Linked DNA regions of Homo sapiens. The protein of the gene in region 4 purifies or fractionates together with the protein of the main gene of each other region. This does not show direct contact. Each region holds a gene or a part of one and is shown on either strand. Other genes may lie near its edges.

Region 1 (4,057 bases), on a different chromosome or scaffold from region 4:
TAGGCAAGGCAACTGAGGAACTGGGAAGTTAGGAAACTTAGTGTCAAACAGGTAAGTGGCAGAAAGTGGCAGAGCAGAGGTATCACAGGGCCCATAGGTAATAAACAGGCTGTACCTAAAAACAAACTAAACAAAACATGAAACAGTACCATAGCAGTCCATACAATATTCACTTTGAGAGGTCATTTAGTTCTAGCAAAACAACATCTGTCAAGTTAACTCAGTTTTAAATGTTACTGATTTTGTAGTTCTGTGTGCATTAAATTTAAAGTAAATTTTTATTTTATAGTTGAAGAAAGGCCATAAGCAAAGTTTATATTTGTGCCAAAAAGAGGCATTTTTTTTAAAGTGGGTGAAGTGAGTTTTTTTTTTTTTCTTTCATACGTTTTTCAACTTTGAAAAACTCTAGATGAGACAATAAGTTCTAGTACTTTGAACTAACAACTTTTCAGCAAAGTCTAGCCTGGCATCTTGGTCAATCTGAAATAAACTCGGCAAATATTTAAGTGATTCCCATCTGCCAGCCACTGCTCTCCAGAAAGACAGACTCTAAGTGGGGCTTTTTATTTATTAGAATGCCAAGAAGTTCCAGATGAAAATGAAAATCTGTTTCCAACATACCCATTTAAATCATAGTTAATGACAGCATTCATTTAACAGTATGTAAGAGGAAATTGAAATCACTGAACTGTGTTTAACTGGCTTATATGACTTGTAGAGTTACCCATTCTTCTAAGCTTTGATACCTTTTTCATTAATCTCAGAGCAAGCACTATTATGAAATAAATTAAACCTTTTTTAAGGCTATGAGCTAGATAATTTTCACATTACTTCTCTTATTTAGTACCTGAAATTCCTGGGCTTACTGTTGCTAACAAGAAAGTATTATACTTCCTTTTTTTTTTTCATATCTGTGTAAAGGAGCTATGAAACAAGTTTGGATAATAAGGCTTTTTCTTACCAACTATTGAGATACAATAAATTGCACATATTACAGGTAGTACACACTTTTTAATCAGTTTTGATTTAAACATACATCTGTGAAACCATCAGTAAGATCAACATAATGAACATCTTCATCACCCCCTAAAAAGTCCTTATGCCTCTTTGTGATCTGTCACTAACTTCACCCCCATCTGCAGGCAACCACTAACAGATCTCTGCCTCTGTTGATTAGATTTCTCTATTCTAGAATTTTATATTAGTAGAATCATACAATAAGTATCCTTTTTTTGAGGGGGGGCTGGCTTCTTTCATTCAACATTATGATTTTGGGGTTCATATTTATTATGTGTACCAATAGTATGTAGCTTATTTTCTTCTTTTATTTCCAGTGGAAGGATATACTACTATTTGTGCATCCATTCCCATTGATGCCCAATTGTTGTTTCCAATTTGGGACTATTGAAATAAGATCCTGTTCTAAGGTCCTGTGTCGTTAATAATACTTCTGGTGTCTTTATGGTTGAGAAACATTCAAGTCTGCTTATAACCAATTATAGTACAGAGTTCAAAGAAAAAATTAAAATATATGGTTACCATTAGTTGGATGGCTGGACAGGTTATGCAACCTATATGGGCTTCATTGTCTTCATTTTCACAGCAACAGCTCTTTTAGATACTCCCAATTTTATACAGTGCTCTGTAATACTAATTTAAGATCATTTTTTTACAAAGTCTAAAAATAGATATGAGTAGGAGACCTTTTAGAAACATCGCACAAATTCACGATTTCAAAATGCATGTTATAATTAGAAGTCTCCACTATGTGTGTGTGTGTGTGTGTCTGTGTGTGAGACAGGGTCTCACCCTGTCACCCAGGCTGGAATGCAATGGTGCGCTCTCGGCTCACTGCAACCTCTGCCTCCCAAGTTCAAGCAATTCTCCTGCCTCAGCCTACTGAGTAGCTGGGATTACAGGCGTGCACCACCGCGCCCGGCTAATTTTTGTCTTTTTAGTAGAGATGGGGTTTCACTTTTAAAATATATTTATAGCTTTATATCTATGATTATATCAAAATCTATATCCATATGTTCTTGTTTTAAAATTAAGGCACTTTAAACATTTTTACATGATTTTACTTATACGTAAACACTATAACAACTAACAAAGCCAAATAGATTTCTAAATCCTTAACTTGATTATATATTCCTTAAAATATCCGTTTTCGTGGCTTCCAATAAATAATGATTGCAATCCAGCTGGACATAGTGGCTCATGCCTGTAGAGTGACCCCTCTGCACTTTGGGAGGATCCAAGAGGATCACTTGGACCCAGGAGTTTGCCACCAGCCTGGGTCTCAATATAGTGAGACCCCGTTGTTACAAAAAATGTAAAAATTAGCTGGGTGCGGTGGCGTGCACCTGTAGTCCTAGCACCTCAAGAGTCTGAGGCAGGAGGATTGCTTGAACCCAGGAATTCAAGGCTGCAGTGAGCCATGATCATGCCACTGCACTCCAGCTTGGGCGATGGAGGAAGGCCCTGTATCTATAAAAAATTAAAACAATAATAATGAATAACGATTGAAATCTATACGTGTTTGAATCTCATGGTTGTGTGATGAATTGCTGAAAACAGAATGTTTGTTTCTCCTGTTCTGTTTGTTTTGGCTGCATCTTCTTGTCTTTGGTAGAGACCCGTGTTCCCGATCTAGATATTAGAAATGTTACAATGAATTATATTGTGCTGCTCTGAATACAAAATAAAAAGAAGATCTAATAAAGGCTTATATGTGCTCCACATTAGGACACTCCTCAGATAACTGTGGGATGGATATTGTTATCCTTATTTCATAGATAAGGAAACTGAGAGTTTTACAGGTCTTTTTATTTACTTTTATTTATTTATTTACTTATTTTTTTGAGACAGAGTCTCGCTCTTGTCGCCCAAGCTGGAGTGCAGTGGCGCGATCTTGACTCACTGCAACCTCCTCCTCCTGGGTTCAAGCAATTCTCCTGTCTCAACCTCCTGAGTAGCTAGGACTACGAGCACGCACCACTACACCTGGCTAATTTTTGTATTTTTTTTTTTAGTAGAGATGGGGTTTCACCATGTTGGCCAGGCTGGTCTCAAACTCCTGACCTCAGGTGATCCATCCGCCTTGGCCTCCCAAAGTGCTGTGATTACAGGTGTGAGCCACCATGCCTGGCCAAGTTTTGCAGGTCTTGTTCCACTTTATAGTATTCCTGAAAAAGCTATAATGTAGTAGAAGAGAGAGCAGTAACACTAAGAATATCATTCTCTTTTGAGACAGGGTCTCACTTTATTGCCTAGGCTGGATTACAGTGGCATGATCATAGCTCACTGCAGCCTCAACTTCCTGGGCTCAAGCAATCCTCCCACCTCAGCCTCCTGAGTAGCTGGGACTACAGGTCCATGCCACCACACCTTGCTAATTTTTTAGAAAATTTTTTGTAGAGATGGGGTCTCACTATGTTGTCCATGCTGGGAAAATATTATGTACATAATCTTTTCTCTCCTAAAATGCTTGTTCATCCAGATAAAGTGATCAATTCCACCCTAATGAGGCAGGTTATGCTGTATTTTCTTCTTTGGTTTGAGCAGTTGGAGGAATTCTCTAAAGGGAAATAAATCACTAATTATTACTTTAATTAGTTTAGGTCTGTTGTTTCTTATCTCCAATGAAGGTAAATGTTGGCTCCTTGCACATCCCTTCTTATAGTACTCTATCTTCCACCCCCAGCAGTTTGTTAAATCAGATTTAACATATTTATTTCCCAGAATAAAGCAATTAATCTTTTACACTTACTTGTAAAATATTATTTAAGTCTACTATGGACAGTAGGAATGACATAAAGTAAAAATCCTTCTGTGTGAGCCATGTGTTTCACATTTCCATGCTATTCTGGACCTTCTATAATTTCCGACTAATGTCATTACATTGTGAACACCGAATTGGAAATCATCACAGTTTTTCCTCTTGGAGTGTTTTGCTCATCCATGTTCCAAATCTATTTTTACCCTCTAGAAGCCCAATCTGTTTCAGATTATTTTTCTCATTCCAGCCCCTGCATTTCAAAAGGCTAACCTTAGTGTG
Region 2 (4,057 bases), on a different chromosome or scaffold from region 4:
TTCTTTATGAGCAGTGCATGGTACCACATCATGCATTGGTGAAAGAGCTATTCAAAGTGCAAGACTAACTACTTTTTTTTTAATTGTAAAAAAACATAGCATAAAATTTACTGTCCTAACCATTTTTAAGTGTACAGTTCAGTAGTGTGTTAAGTACATTCGCATTGTTGAAACAGATCTCCAGAACTACTTCATCTTACAAATCTGAAACTCTCTACCTATTAAACAAAACAACCTACCTTTCCTCCCATTCCCAGCCCCTGGCAACCACCATTCTACACTCTGTCTCTATGAATTTGACTATTCTAGATATCTCATAGAAGTGGAATCACACAGTATTTGTTTTGTGAGTAACTTATTTCACTTAGCATAATGTCCTCAAAGTTGGTTCATGTTGTAACGTGTGACAGGATTTCCTTTAAGGCTGAAAAGAACATTCCATTGTATCTATATACCACAGTTTGTTTATCTGTTCACCCATTAATGGACATTTGGATTGCTTCTACCTCTTGGTAGAATGTAAAATTGTACCATGTAAAATTGTGAATAGTGCTCCTGTAAACATGGATATGCAGATATTTCTTTGAGATCCTGCTTTCAGTTGTTTTGGATATAGGCACAGGAGTGGGATTGCTGGATCATATGGTAATTATAATTTTAATTTTAGTATCGTAATTCTAATTTCTTAGGTAGAACTACCATACTGTTTTCCACAGCAGTTGTACCATTTTCCAGTCCTACCTACAGTATACAAGGGTTCCAGTTCTCCATCCCTTAGTCAGCAGTTGCTATTTACTGTTTTTGTCATAGTGGTCATCCTGATGGGTGTGATACGATACCTCATTTTGTTTTGATTTGCATTTCTCTGATGATTAGTGATATTGAGCATCTTTTTATGTGCTTGTTGGCCACTTGTAAATCATCTTTGGGGAAATATCTACTCACATCCTTTGACCATTTTTTAATTAGGTTATTTTGATTTTTGTTGAGTTGTGAGAGTTCTTTATATGTTCTGGAGACATGAGTTTTAATGTAACAGTATGACAGATTTATTAATGGTTTCAGATTCTGCATTGTAACTAACCTTTAAGGAGCTAACTGTTGAATTCTGTGGTTTCATATAAGTATATCTAGAATTATCTGAAAGACGATTAGAATATTCTTTTCAGTATCATATCTTTGAGAGGCTGGATTTTATACCTGAACTGAAAGAGCAGATCATAACAGATTGAGTGCTAAAGCAGATATGAGAATCTACTTGTTCTTTTTAAAACCTAGACATTAGGAGATTTGCAAAAATGTAAAATTAAGCCACTCTTAATGTATTTTGATAGGAAATAGTTATTTTTAATTTAAAATGCATTGATATATAGGTATTTTTAAATAAATGTTTCTAGATTTGTTTTTCATTTTCTGAAGTAGTAAATATTGGTAGGCATTATCTATGTAAACAGATGCTTTTTTAGGTCTGTAGTAATTTCCATTTATGTTTTAATTTTTTTTTTAGAGACAGGATCTCGCTTTGTCACCCAGGCTGGAGTATAGTGGTGTGATCAGGGCTCACTGCTGTCTCAACACGTTGAGCTCAAACAGTCCTCCTGCCTCAGTCTCCTGAGTTGCTGGGACTACAGGCACTCACCACAGTACCCTGCTAATTTTTAACTTTTTGTAGAGATGAGATCTCATTATGTTGCCCAGGCTGGTCTCAAACTCCTGGCCTCAAGCAATCCTCCTGCCTGGGGCTCAAAGTGCTAGGATTATAGATGTGAGTCGCTGTGCCCAGCCAGTAATTTTTAAGAATGCACATGGAGTTCTGAGATCTAAGTCTGAGATCTACTGGCTTTAAGAAACTAGTGGGGTTTTTTTACTGTCATACACGGGGGGAATTCTGTGTAATTTTTTATTATTACTGCGTACTTAAAACCAGCCATACATGTTTAGGGTTTGCTGATAAAATTAAATAGCAATACATGTATCAAGAAAATCTCACTTTTTTGTTTCTTTTGATGTAACAGAAATAGAAGTTTGTTGAATGAGGAAAATAGGAGAGCTAATTGTTTGTTGTTGTTGTTTTTGTTGTTGTTAAGACAGGGCCTCACTCCCGTAGCCCAGGCTGGAGTGCAGTGGCGCCATCTTGTCTCACTGCAGCCTCGACCTCTGGGTTTAGGTGATTCACCACCTGAGCCTTCTCAGTAGCTGGGACTACAGGCCTGCACTGCCACACCTGGCTAATTTTTTGTATTTTTAGTAGAGACGGGGTTTTGTCATGTTGCCCAGGCTGGCCTCAAACTTCTGGGCTCAAGTGATTCGCCCGCCTTGGACTCCCAAAGTGCTAGGATTACAGGCGTGAGCCACCGTGCTTGTCTCTAATTGTTTGTTTGTTTGTTTGTTTGTTTTTTAAAGATAATTGTTTAAATTTGGTATAAAGACAGTTATCTAAAATTGTGGACTGGAGAAGTCTTAAAACCAATGGGATCCTTCATAGTTTTTCCAGTATTAAAAAGATGAAGGTGATAATTTTCACCACTTTTGAAAAATATTAAGGGCTAGGACCGTTAATCTATCATTTCAGAGACCTGAGCTCCCAACCACATGGGGTATCTGATTAAATCATACAAATACTGACCTGCTATGATCTAGGTATAAAACAAGAAAGGGAAGGTCTCTGCTTTCATGGGGATGTACAAGCAACTAACAAGTACACAAATAACATAAAGTGGGATAACTTTAGATCATGGTGAATGTTATTAAGAGGTAAAATTGGGTAATGTGACTGGGATTTGTGGGGCTACCTTGTTGGTCAGGAGAACTCCAAAAGGAACCGGCCTTCTGAAGGTATGGGGAAGAGCTTATCAGGCAGAGGAGAGTGTGTCCTAATGGGAGAGGAAGAAGAGCAGAGTAGAGAACGCATGAACAACAAGGAGGAAGATGGGAAACCTGAGGGCAGAGGCGTGAAGGCTTTTAGGGCTTGGGGGCTATGGTGAGCAGTTTGGTTGTTTTTCAAATTATAAAGGGAAGGCATGGGAACATTTTAGATCACACAATGTGGTATCAGTGACACAACGATTACTTTGGTTGCAGTGAAGAATAAGATTGTAGGAGCAAGAGAGTAAAAACCTATGCCTTAATAAAAAAATGGAAATAAGACTGAAGGAAAACAAACACCAATTTCTTTAAAAAAAAAAAACAAAAAAAAAACCCTCTGTGCCTTGAATAGCTTTTCTAAGTTTTAAATAAACGTTCTGTGGTTATGTAAGATGCTAATACAGGAGAAGCAAAGTGAACCGTATACAGGAACTCTACTATTTTTCCAGTTCTTCTGTAAGTCTGAAATTATCTCAAAATTTAACTGTTAAGTAAACAATAACAAACAGTATTTTATACCTTGAATGAACAATTAAAACTTTTGATTTGGGTACAGAACCAAGAGCAGATGAGTCCAGAAAAATAAAAAATCATATTTTTTTCAATTAACTGACTTGGGACAAAATACTTCTATTCTGTTGAATCCATCTCTGAGCTGGGGCCCAGTAGTTTGTCTTTGGTTTTTGTACTTTTTAAAGCTTTCCCAGATTCTGATGCTTGCTAATACGTTGCATGGACAAAATTTCAGGTGTAGCCTTCTTTAGTAAATTCAGTCTTCATAGTCGGTAATCAGCGAAACACTTTGTCAACTTTTTTTTTTTTTTTTTAATCCCCAGCGACATCTCGAATCAGCGATGCACACTTGGCAGACACAATGATTGGCAAAGCAGTGGAACATATGTTTGAGACAGAGGATGGTTCTAAAGATGAGTGGAGGGGAATGGTCTTAGCACGTGCACCTGTCATGAACACATGGTTTTACATTACCTATGAGAAAGACCCTGTCTTGTACATGTACCAACTCTTAGATGATTACAAAGAAGGCGACCTTCGCATTATGCCTGATTCCAGTAAGTATATATTGGCAACTTTTATATGTGATAATTAGAAGGGATTTGGACTTCAGTACAAGATATTTGATTGGCTCTTTTGCAGATACATTTTTATTTTTGGATATATGATTCTTTTAGTC
Region 3 (3,881 bases), on a different chromosome or scaffold from region 4:
AATTTTAATGTTTCATTTTAATTTAAGTAGCATATACCCCTGACCCCAACCACCCAAGTTTACATCCCTAAACCCATTCATTCACCTAATGGGGCTCTATAGGATAAATTCTATGGGAGCATAACTTTTCTGACCTTACCTCAAATACAAGAACATTTAGAGCTGCTAGGTACTTAAGCCTCATCTAATCTAATTTTCACATTTTGTTCTAGAGAAATTGAAACCCAGAGGTGTGACTTACTCTGAGTCACATAGCTGGCTGGTGATGGATGTTCTTTACACTTACCACCCTGCCGCCTTATTTCTTTCTACATAGTCTCCTTTTCTCTTCCGAAAATGTGGTGATTCTGTACCATAATTTGTTTGTTTTGGCATCATTTTTCTTTATTTTTTACTCCCCGGGACCTGTGAAGCCTTCCTTAGAACTTAGGATTCTATAATGGGTTGCTTAAAAATTGGTACCTTCCTATAAACTTGATTTTATTTTTTCACGCTTAGTATGTACTTCTGTCTGGGTATAGAGTATACTTGGAACAGAAAAGTTACTACTTAGATTCTATTGTAGACTACATGCTGTGCTCTAACCGAAGACTAGTGTTTTCAAGTTACAAAAGCAGGAGATACATAGGGTTGGATTAAGATGTATTAAATTCTTAGGACATTTGTGGGAACATTATAGATTATATAACCCTGTGATCTTTGATGAAATCATTCAGTAACAAAGTTGAATGATTCCGTATCAAGAAATACCTATTATTTTTAGGAGCACATATGCATATATTGCACCTGATTTTAAAATTTCCATGCTTTATGAATGCTTGAACCAAAACATTTGTAAAAAATTTCAGTACAGTAACTGAATATGCTAATATGATTTATGTATTTCCTAGCATGTTCCACCTTCCCTCTTCACGGAACCTAATGAAATATCCCAGTATTTACCAATAAAGGAAGCAGTTTGTGAGAAGCTAATATTTCCAGAAAGAATTGATCCTAACCCAGCAGACTCACAAAAAAGTACACAAGTGGAATAAAATGTGATACAACATATACTCACTATGGAATCTGACTGGACACCTTGGCTATTTGTAAGGGGTTATTTTTATTATGAGAATTAATTGCCTTGTTTATGTACAGATTTTCTGTAGCCTTAAAGGAAAAAAAAATAAAGATCGTTACAGGCAGGTTTCACTCAACTGCTGTTTGTACTGTCTGTCTTCACATTCATATTCCAGATTTATATTTTCTGGAGTTAAATTTGGATGATTTCTAAATTATCACAAAGTGGGACCTCAGCAGTAGTGATGTGTGTGTCTCATGAGCAGTGAGCACAGTCTGCATTCATCATGAAACACTATCTTCTACCAGGAGGAGGTTAATGTAAATCACCAAATCCCAATGCCTTGTGACTTTCATAGGATTCCTGATCATGCATGTTGATGTACTGGCTCTTCACTTTGGGCTTTCTGATGTTTATTCACACCTTTGGAGAGTTGCAACTTGCCACATACGAAATTAGTCTCATAGTGTAGTGAACTTCAACCCCAAAATTTTAAAAATGTATTTCCCCCCAGTTTTAAATTGCCTTTGAAATTTAAAAAAAAAAAATTTAGACTTAGTACCAGAACCAAAAATACCTAGATTTTTGGAGAACTTATTACATACATAGAAACATGAATATGGTTTACCACTGTGTGTGTGTAGGATGTTAGAATTATCTGTCCTCCATCTTTAGGTGCTTTTTCTTAAATGTGGTTCTACTTATACTGATATTTTTAATTTCCATCTTCCATGCAACCTCAGAGTGAATAAACCCCTTAAATTTGGTGCTGGTTCGAAAAAGTCTAAAGGGTTTATTAGGGGTTGTTTTTCGCAAATATTACATCAATCCTTAAAGCAACAAGATTAATTTTCTGCTTAAAATATTTGGGAAGATAGGTAAGGAGGAGGGGGTTTTAAAATATAAAAGCAAGTTTTTCTATTTTAAGGTGCATATTTGTAACATTACAGGGGATGAAGTAAAATGTAATTAATTAGCACAAGACTTAGGGAGTACAGAAAATACACAGAAGTAAATTTCAAATCCATTTGATTGTTTTCATAGTGACCCCTTAGTCATTTTATATTCTTGTCTGCCTTTCTAGAAAAATGGTTGTCATAAAGTGGAAAGTGATTAAAAAGCATCAAATAAGAAATTATTTCAAGTGGATTTTTAAAAATATTTTTTTGAAGGGCAGGGGGAAAATTCACCCCTTTTCTGATTTGAAATATGTTGTACATATTTCCATTTGATGGATAAATCATTAAGTAAGAATATTTGATTTAAAGTATTAGCCAACCTCTTCAGGTATTAGCCTGAAGATAAATTTTAACAAAACATATACACTTGGGTATCCGTCATTGCTCAAACTCTATAGTGTATTGCTGGAGCCAATAGGCAGGGTATATTTTATTAGCTAAATTTGATATTTGTCTTCTGCCTTCTGTATCACCTCCAAGCTATAGGAAATCAGGATTTTGTTGGCTTTAAGAAAACACATGGTATGTTCACTGTATATTAAATATACCTGTATTTAATGTTTTCTCTTAGGACAGAAAAGTAGACACACACACACACACACACACACATGTTGTGTTCAGCTTTCTGTTTTATATTATTTGCCATTGAGATTAGAATAGAACAGGCTCTATTCATGCAAACTATATGAAATGAAAAACTTTTAAGACTCTTCATTAATTGGAGCTTCTGGGCAACATCGTGTGTGTGTGTGTGTGTGTGTGTGTGTGTGTGTGTATACAGACATTTTTTTTTTAACTTGTTGATTCAGATGTCTTGGTCCCTGAATAGTCCTAGATTACTTATTTTGAGAATTCATTGTTAAAAATTACAGGGAATTAAAATAATTGCCTTTTTTTTTTTTAGAGGGTAAGAGATGGGTAGAAGAGTATGCCTCTGAAAATTTTATTAGTTTATTCTTGTGGAGAATACCAAGAAAATGTGTATTTGCCCATTGCTAAATATGATATATGCCATTTTGTATTTATTTGTCCCAAGTGTCTTTTTGTAAGAGGAGAATAAACAATAAGGAATTACTGATCAAAGTTTTACTATTTCATTTATTTGAGTTTTTCTTAGAGCTTAATTAAAGAAGTGTGGTTTGGGGTATACTTTTCTTATTTGTGCTTTATGTTTTGAACTCAGTCAACACTGTAGACAGTCTCCAGGCAGGTTATAAATTAAAACCTAACTGATGGTTCAGAATACAATTTCCCAGTTTGCATTTGGGCTCTTGCCTCTCCTCTCCCTCTGTTCATCAATATTTCCATGGATGTTTTTTAACAGTATTTTCTGTATGTTGGGTTAATGTTTTTGGTTTTTGAAAATATGAATACCTGTCGTATGTATTAGTTTTGAGTACTATATGTACAATTATGGTGCTAGGTATAATAGATTACAACAATGAAGCGATGTAGTATATGTTTTTATAGGATTAAAGTCTAATGGAGGAGACAAAGTAAAAAAATTACTAATTTTAATATGTGCAGTGATGGAAATGATACTGACAAGAGAGTAACAGAAAATCAACTAACTTTAGTAGAGGTAGTCAGAGCTCTGCTTCTCAAGAAGATGTGGAAAACCTCAAGAGACTGTCATTCCCATTTTAACAAGGAGAAAAGGCTGGGTCATCTATAAAATTAAAGCTTTTTTTCTTGAACATATCAAAGAACTGAAATTACAAGGCAAACAAACCAAATCCCAAAGAGTGATAAGCCCTACAAGGAGAGATGGGACATACTGACTGTTTAACCTTAGGAAGAACCCAAGAGAAAGAGATGGCCTTTATATAAACAGGTAAAATATTGGCAAAAATTTTAAGAAA
Region 4 (4,057 bases):
ATTTCTAGGTGCTGAGCAGAAGGTAACATGGTAAGGATGCTGTCAGTTGAGAGCTGGGGGTGGCCTGGGACTCCCTGGTCCCGTCTGTGCTCAGGGACAGGAATGTGCTGCACAGAGACGCTGGGTGTGGGAGCTCGTGTTTGTAAGGAGTCTGAAGCTGACCCCTCGGGTACTGGAGTCCTGGGGTTCTCAGGGGATCCTGCATACAGAGGGCAAGGACGTGCGTGTACTCTAGTGTATGTCCAGCCCACGCGTGTGCACATATTCACGCGTGGGTACTTGCACACAGGGCAGGTGGATTGTGGGTAAGGAGCACCAGCCCTGTGTGTGGAGTGGGTGTGCAAAGAGGTGTGTTCTGGCACGCACAGAGGGCAGTGTGCACGCAGCACTGGAGCCAGGCGTGCTGTGTCCCAGGGGAGGGTGGCGGCCTGGTGCCTCCTGGAAGGTGTGGGCCTGGGAGGAGCCTTCTTCTGACTTTGGACTTGGAAACTGCTTCCTCCTGGGCTCAAAGACTTTTGAAAAGGGTGTATGGGGCTGTGCTAGGGGGCATCCTGTCCCCAGCCCTGCCTCTCACCCCCCAACCCCTAGGCACTGGAATAGCAGGGCCACAGGTACTCAGGAGGGCTTGGCATGTGGGGCCGTGAAAGGAGAGGCATGGAACCAACACCATCCACATTTCCTTACCTCTGTTCCCACATGGCCAGTGCTGGCCCCACTGATCTGCACCAGACTGTCCTTAGTGTCTCTGCTCCCCACCCCACCCAACCTGCCCCATCCCTGGCATAGCTGAGCCCCGATCCTTAGCATCTGGGGAGACAGAGGTGAGGAACATGTCCCCCTGGGAGCTGTAGGTCCAGGGAGACCCTGTGGGTGAGGATGCTCTCCCAGAGGCCAGCATGGCACAGAGGCTTCCTGCAGGAGGGGGCACTCGGCCAGCCCTTCGCAGTACAGAGAAGGCCTCTGAGGGGGCGGGGAGCCGGCGAGCTGCAGGGAGCATGCTGGGCACAGCAGGTACCTGGAGTGGGAAGGAAGGTTAGGACCAGGTAGGGCAGAGGAGCGGAGGGGCTGAGGACTGGGCTCTGCACTGCCGGGCACCTGCTGGGGTGGGTAGGAGAGAGCAGGGAGGGGCGCGTGCCCACTCTGCAGAGGAGCCTGCTCCATGGTGGTGGCTGCCGCAGGAGCAGCGGTTGCCTGGCACCTCTGCTGTTGCCATGGTGACGATGGAGGTGCTAACTTGCTAATGAATCCCCTTCGGCTGCAAATAACAATACTATTGTGGGTGATAGGCCCAGCTCCAGCTCAGCGTTGCTTAGGAGGCAGAGCAGGGCCAGGTAAAGGCCAGGACCCGTCCTCCCGCCCCTCCAGCCCCTGCCCACCACCCTGCAGCTGGACTTGCCCTCCTCCCTCCCCTCCCTCTGGGTCTCAGATCTGGCTGGCTGCACCGAGGTCTCTCATGGCAGTGTCAGGACTCAGGGCTGCATGAAGGCTAGGCCCTGGCTGCAGAGAGGGCGAGGGCCTCTCCTCACACCTGCCCTCCTCCCTGCACTGGGGGGTATTTGCTTCTGTTGTTTTCAGTGAGAGAGAATCCACCCCCACTTAACGGATGAGGACATTGAGGCCGGGGCAGCTCCTCAAAAGACCCCCAGCCCAAGTGTCCCTGCCACTGCAGCCTTCTCGGGGTTCTGGGTCTCTGAGCTGGACCCTTGGGTATCCTACGGGGCACCTGGAGCCGCTGTCTCACCAGAACCACACATCTGGGCCCTCGCCTCTCACCACCTGTGCAAGGCTCAGGTAGAACTCGGGAAGGACAAACAGCTCATCAAGGACCCCCTGTGGGTAGTCAGGGACCCCCTTGGCAGGCAGAGACCCTCCACAGCAGGCAGGCAGCAGGCCCTTTTGCTGTTGAACTTGCTGGGTCTGGCCCTGGAGAGGACTCCCAGGCCTCGTTCCCCACCCTGTGGTGGAGGCTGGAGCACCAGCCCAGGAACGTTATCTGAGTGGGATCCTGAGGCCCTGCTGACCAGGTGCCACTGCAATCCCTGGTGTCAGCCGTGGGGTCAGCTGAGGCTGCCCATCCACAGTCAGGTGTTTCCCTGGCCTCTGGCAACAGGAGGGATGGTGGGAATGCACAGAAGCCTGGGCCCAGTCGAGGCGGGAGGGGCCAGGCAGGGGCCAAGCTTGAAGTGTCTGGAGAAGGAGAGTGAGTGCGAGGCTGGGGCTCCTGGGCAGGGAGGAGCTGGGACCTGCCCCTCAGTGTGGAGTTGGGGCTGGGCCAGGGACGAGGTCCACACCAGCCTTGCACCTGCTGCTCTGTGAACTCTCTCACTGGCCCCCGCCGGCCTGGGAGCTGACCTGGAGAGTCCAGAAACGGTGGTGGCCTCTGTCCCCAGCCTGCTGTTTGCAGTGCATGGGTGTCCTCAGGGCGCCTCCCCCCAGTGCCTCCTGTGGCTGTGGGTTGGGGGTCTGGCTTGCTGAGGGCCCGCTACCCACCGTAGCCCGCTTTGCACAGGGCGCAGGGCCCAGGGTACATCTATCTCCCAGCCTTCCCTCAGTCCTGAGCTGGGTGGAGTAAACTTCCTGACTGCCTGGCAGCTGTGGGGGCACAGGGAAGATGGCATTGCAGGGACACCCAGTGCCCATCTGTGTGTGACCCAGGTGTGACCCAGGTCCCAACCCTGCCCCAAGCCTCGGTTTCCCCATAGTTAAAGCAAACTCATCATCCTTAACACTATGCGCCTCCTAGGGGCTGTGAGTGTAAAGTGGACCCAGAGGAAGGCCAGTCCTGGCAGGTGACAGGGAGATGGGGCCCGGCAGTGGGGCAGTGACAGGCTTGTCATCAAGCCTGCAGGAGGGGCTTCCGGAGACTCCATCCTCAGACATCCCTACTCCACCTGCCCACCCGGCAGTCTGAGGCCTTTGCAGGCCATGCCGAGGGCCTGGCACCTGCGGGGTCCCCGACACTGACCCTCCTCCCAGGGCTGCCCCGCCCCTCCCATCCTGGGCCCTATCAGCCCATGAAGGAGCCTCCTAGACCCCAGGCTCCGCTAGGGGAGAGGCACTGTGTGGGTGCAACACGCCCCTGCAGGAGCTGGGCACTCACCCCCAGCAGGCACGTGGCGCACACTAAACCTCAGCCTGCAGGTCAGGAGGGCAGCAGTGGCAAAGGAGCCGTGCCTCTGTGCCTGAGCCCCTCCCGCACCCGCCTGCTATCCGGCTGCCCCCGGGAGCCCACTCTCCAGTGGAGGCAGCCCCAAGGCCACCATCCACCAGGGGCTGGATTATCGGCTTACGGAGCTGCCCTGGAGTCAAGTCTCCAGGGATTGGACTCCCTGGGGCTGTGCTAGGGAGAGAGGGGCAGGTGTGAGGACAGCAAGCCCGGAGGAGGGCAGAGAGCTTGACCATGTGGGAGGGTGAGGTGCAGTCCAGACCCCGACTTGCTGGGGGTCCTGTGGTGGAAAAGATGCAGAAGTCACAGCAGGGAGATGCCTGTGTCCCAGGGATGAGATGGAATGTTCTGGAATGCCTAAGGGTCCGTGAACCCCAGGGCCCACAGGAAGGACCCCTGGCCTCTTCCAGCCCTCAGACCCTTCTCTGTGGGGCCCATTTGCCCCCCTCTGCCTTGTTGCATCCTGCTGAGAGCTGGCCTTGTGACCTGGACGGGGTCTCTCCAGAGGGAGAAGGGTTCCCACGGGCACATGTTGGTGTGTCCTGGTGGGCGCAGCTCCCAGCTCTGATCTGTCCTGGGGAGCTTCTGGGTGCCACCCAGGGGCCCGCAGCACTGCTGACCATCCCCCTGTCCCTGCAGGTCCAGCACCATGTGCTAGGTCACTCCCAGCGCGAGGCCACACCTGGGCCGTCGGAGCAGCCCCTCCTCACTTCAGGGGTCACCCTCCCCAGCACCCATTGCCCCACCATGGCTGGGGACCGGCTCCCGAGGAAGGTGATGGATGCCAAGAAGCTGGCCAGCCTGCTGCGGGGCGGGCCTGGGGGGCCGCTGGTCATCGACAGCCGCTCCTTCGTGGAGTACAACAGCTGGCATGTGCTCAGCTCCGTCAAC

What was found. The genes of interacting proteins can lie anywhere in the genome.
Region 1: the proteins of DUSP8 (region 4) and ANKMY2 purify together in Homo sapiens (affinity purification with mass spectrometry, with the first as the bait; one large-scale study listed by BioGRID). This does not show direct contact.
Region 2: the proteins of DUSP8 (region 4) and SPIN1 purify together in Homo sapiens (affinity purification with mass spectrometry, with the first as the bait; one large-scale study listed by BioGRID). This does not show direct contact.
Region 3: the proteins of DUSP8 (region 4) and TIPRL purify together in Homo sapiens (affinity purification with mass spectrometry, with the first as the bait; one large-scale study listed by BioGRID). This does not show direct contact.

The regions. Positions count from the first base shown.
Region 1 is NC_000007.14:16,638,971-16,643,027, reverse strand, and holds part of ANKMY2 (ankyrin repeat and MYND domain-containing protein 2), read left to right. Parts: intron 1-4,057. UniProt on the Homo sapiens protein: May be involved in the trafficking of signaling proteins to the cilia.
Region 2 is NC_000009.12:88,464,671-88,468,727, forward strand, and holds part of SPIN1 (spindlin-1), read left to right. Parts: intron 1-3,701; coding exon 3,702-3,935; intron 3,936-4,057. UniProt on the Homo sapiens protein: Chromatin reader that specifically recognizes and binds histone H3 both trimethylated at 'Lys-4' and 'Lys-9' (H3K4me3K9me3) and is involved in piRNA-mediated retrotransposon silencing during spermatogenesis.
Region 3 is NC_000001.11:168,199,013-168,202,893, forward strand, and holds the end of TIPRL (TIP41-like protein), read left to right. Parts: intron 1-890; coding exon 891-1,034; 3' UTR 1,035-3,097; downstream 3,098-3,881. UniProt on the Homo sapiens protein: May be a allosteric regulator of serine/threonine-protein phosphatase 2A (PP2A). Isoform 1 inhibits catalytic activity of the PP2A(D) core complex in vitro. The PP2A(C):TIPRL complex does not show phosphatase activity.
Region 4 is NC_000011.10:1,565,683-1,569,739, reverse strand, and holds part of DUSP8 (dual specificity protein phosphatase 8), read left to right. Parts: exon of another isoform or gene 1-1,791; intron 1,792-3,805; 5' UTR 3,806-3,913; coding exon 3,914-4,057. UniProt on the Homo sapiens protein: Has phosphatase activity with synthetic phosphatase substrates and negatively regulates mitogen-activated protein kinase activity, presumably by catalysing their dephosphorylation.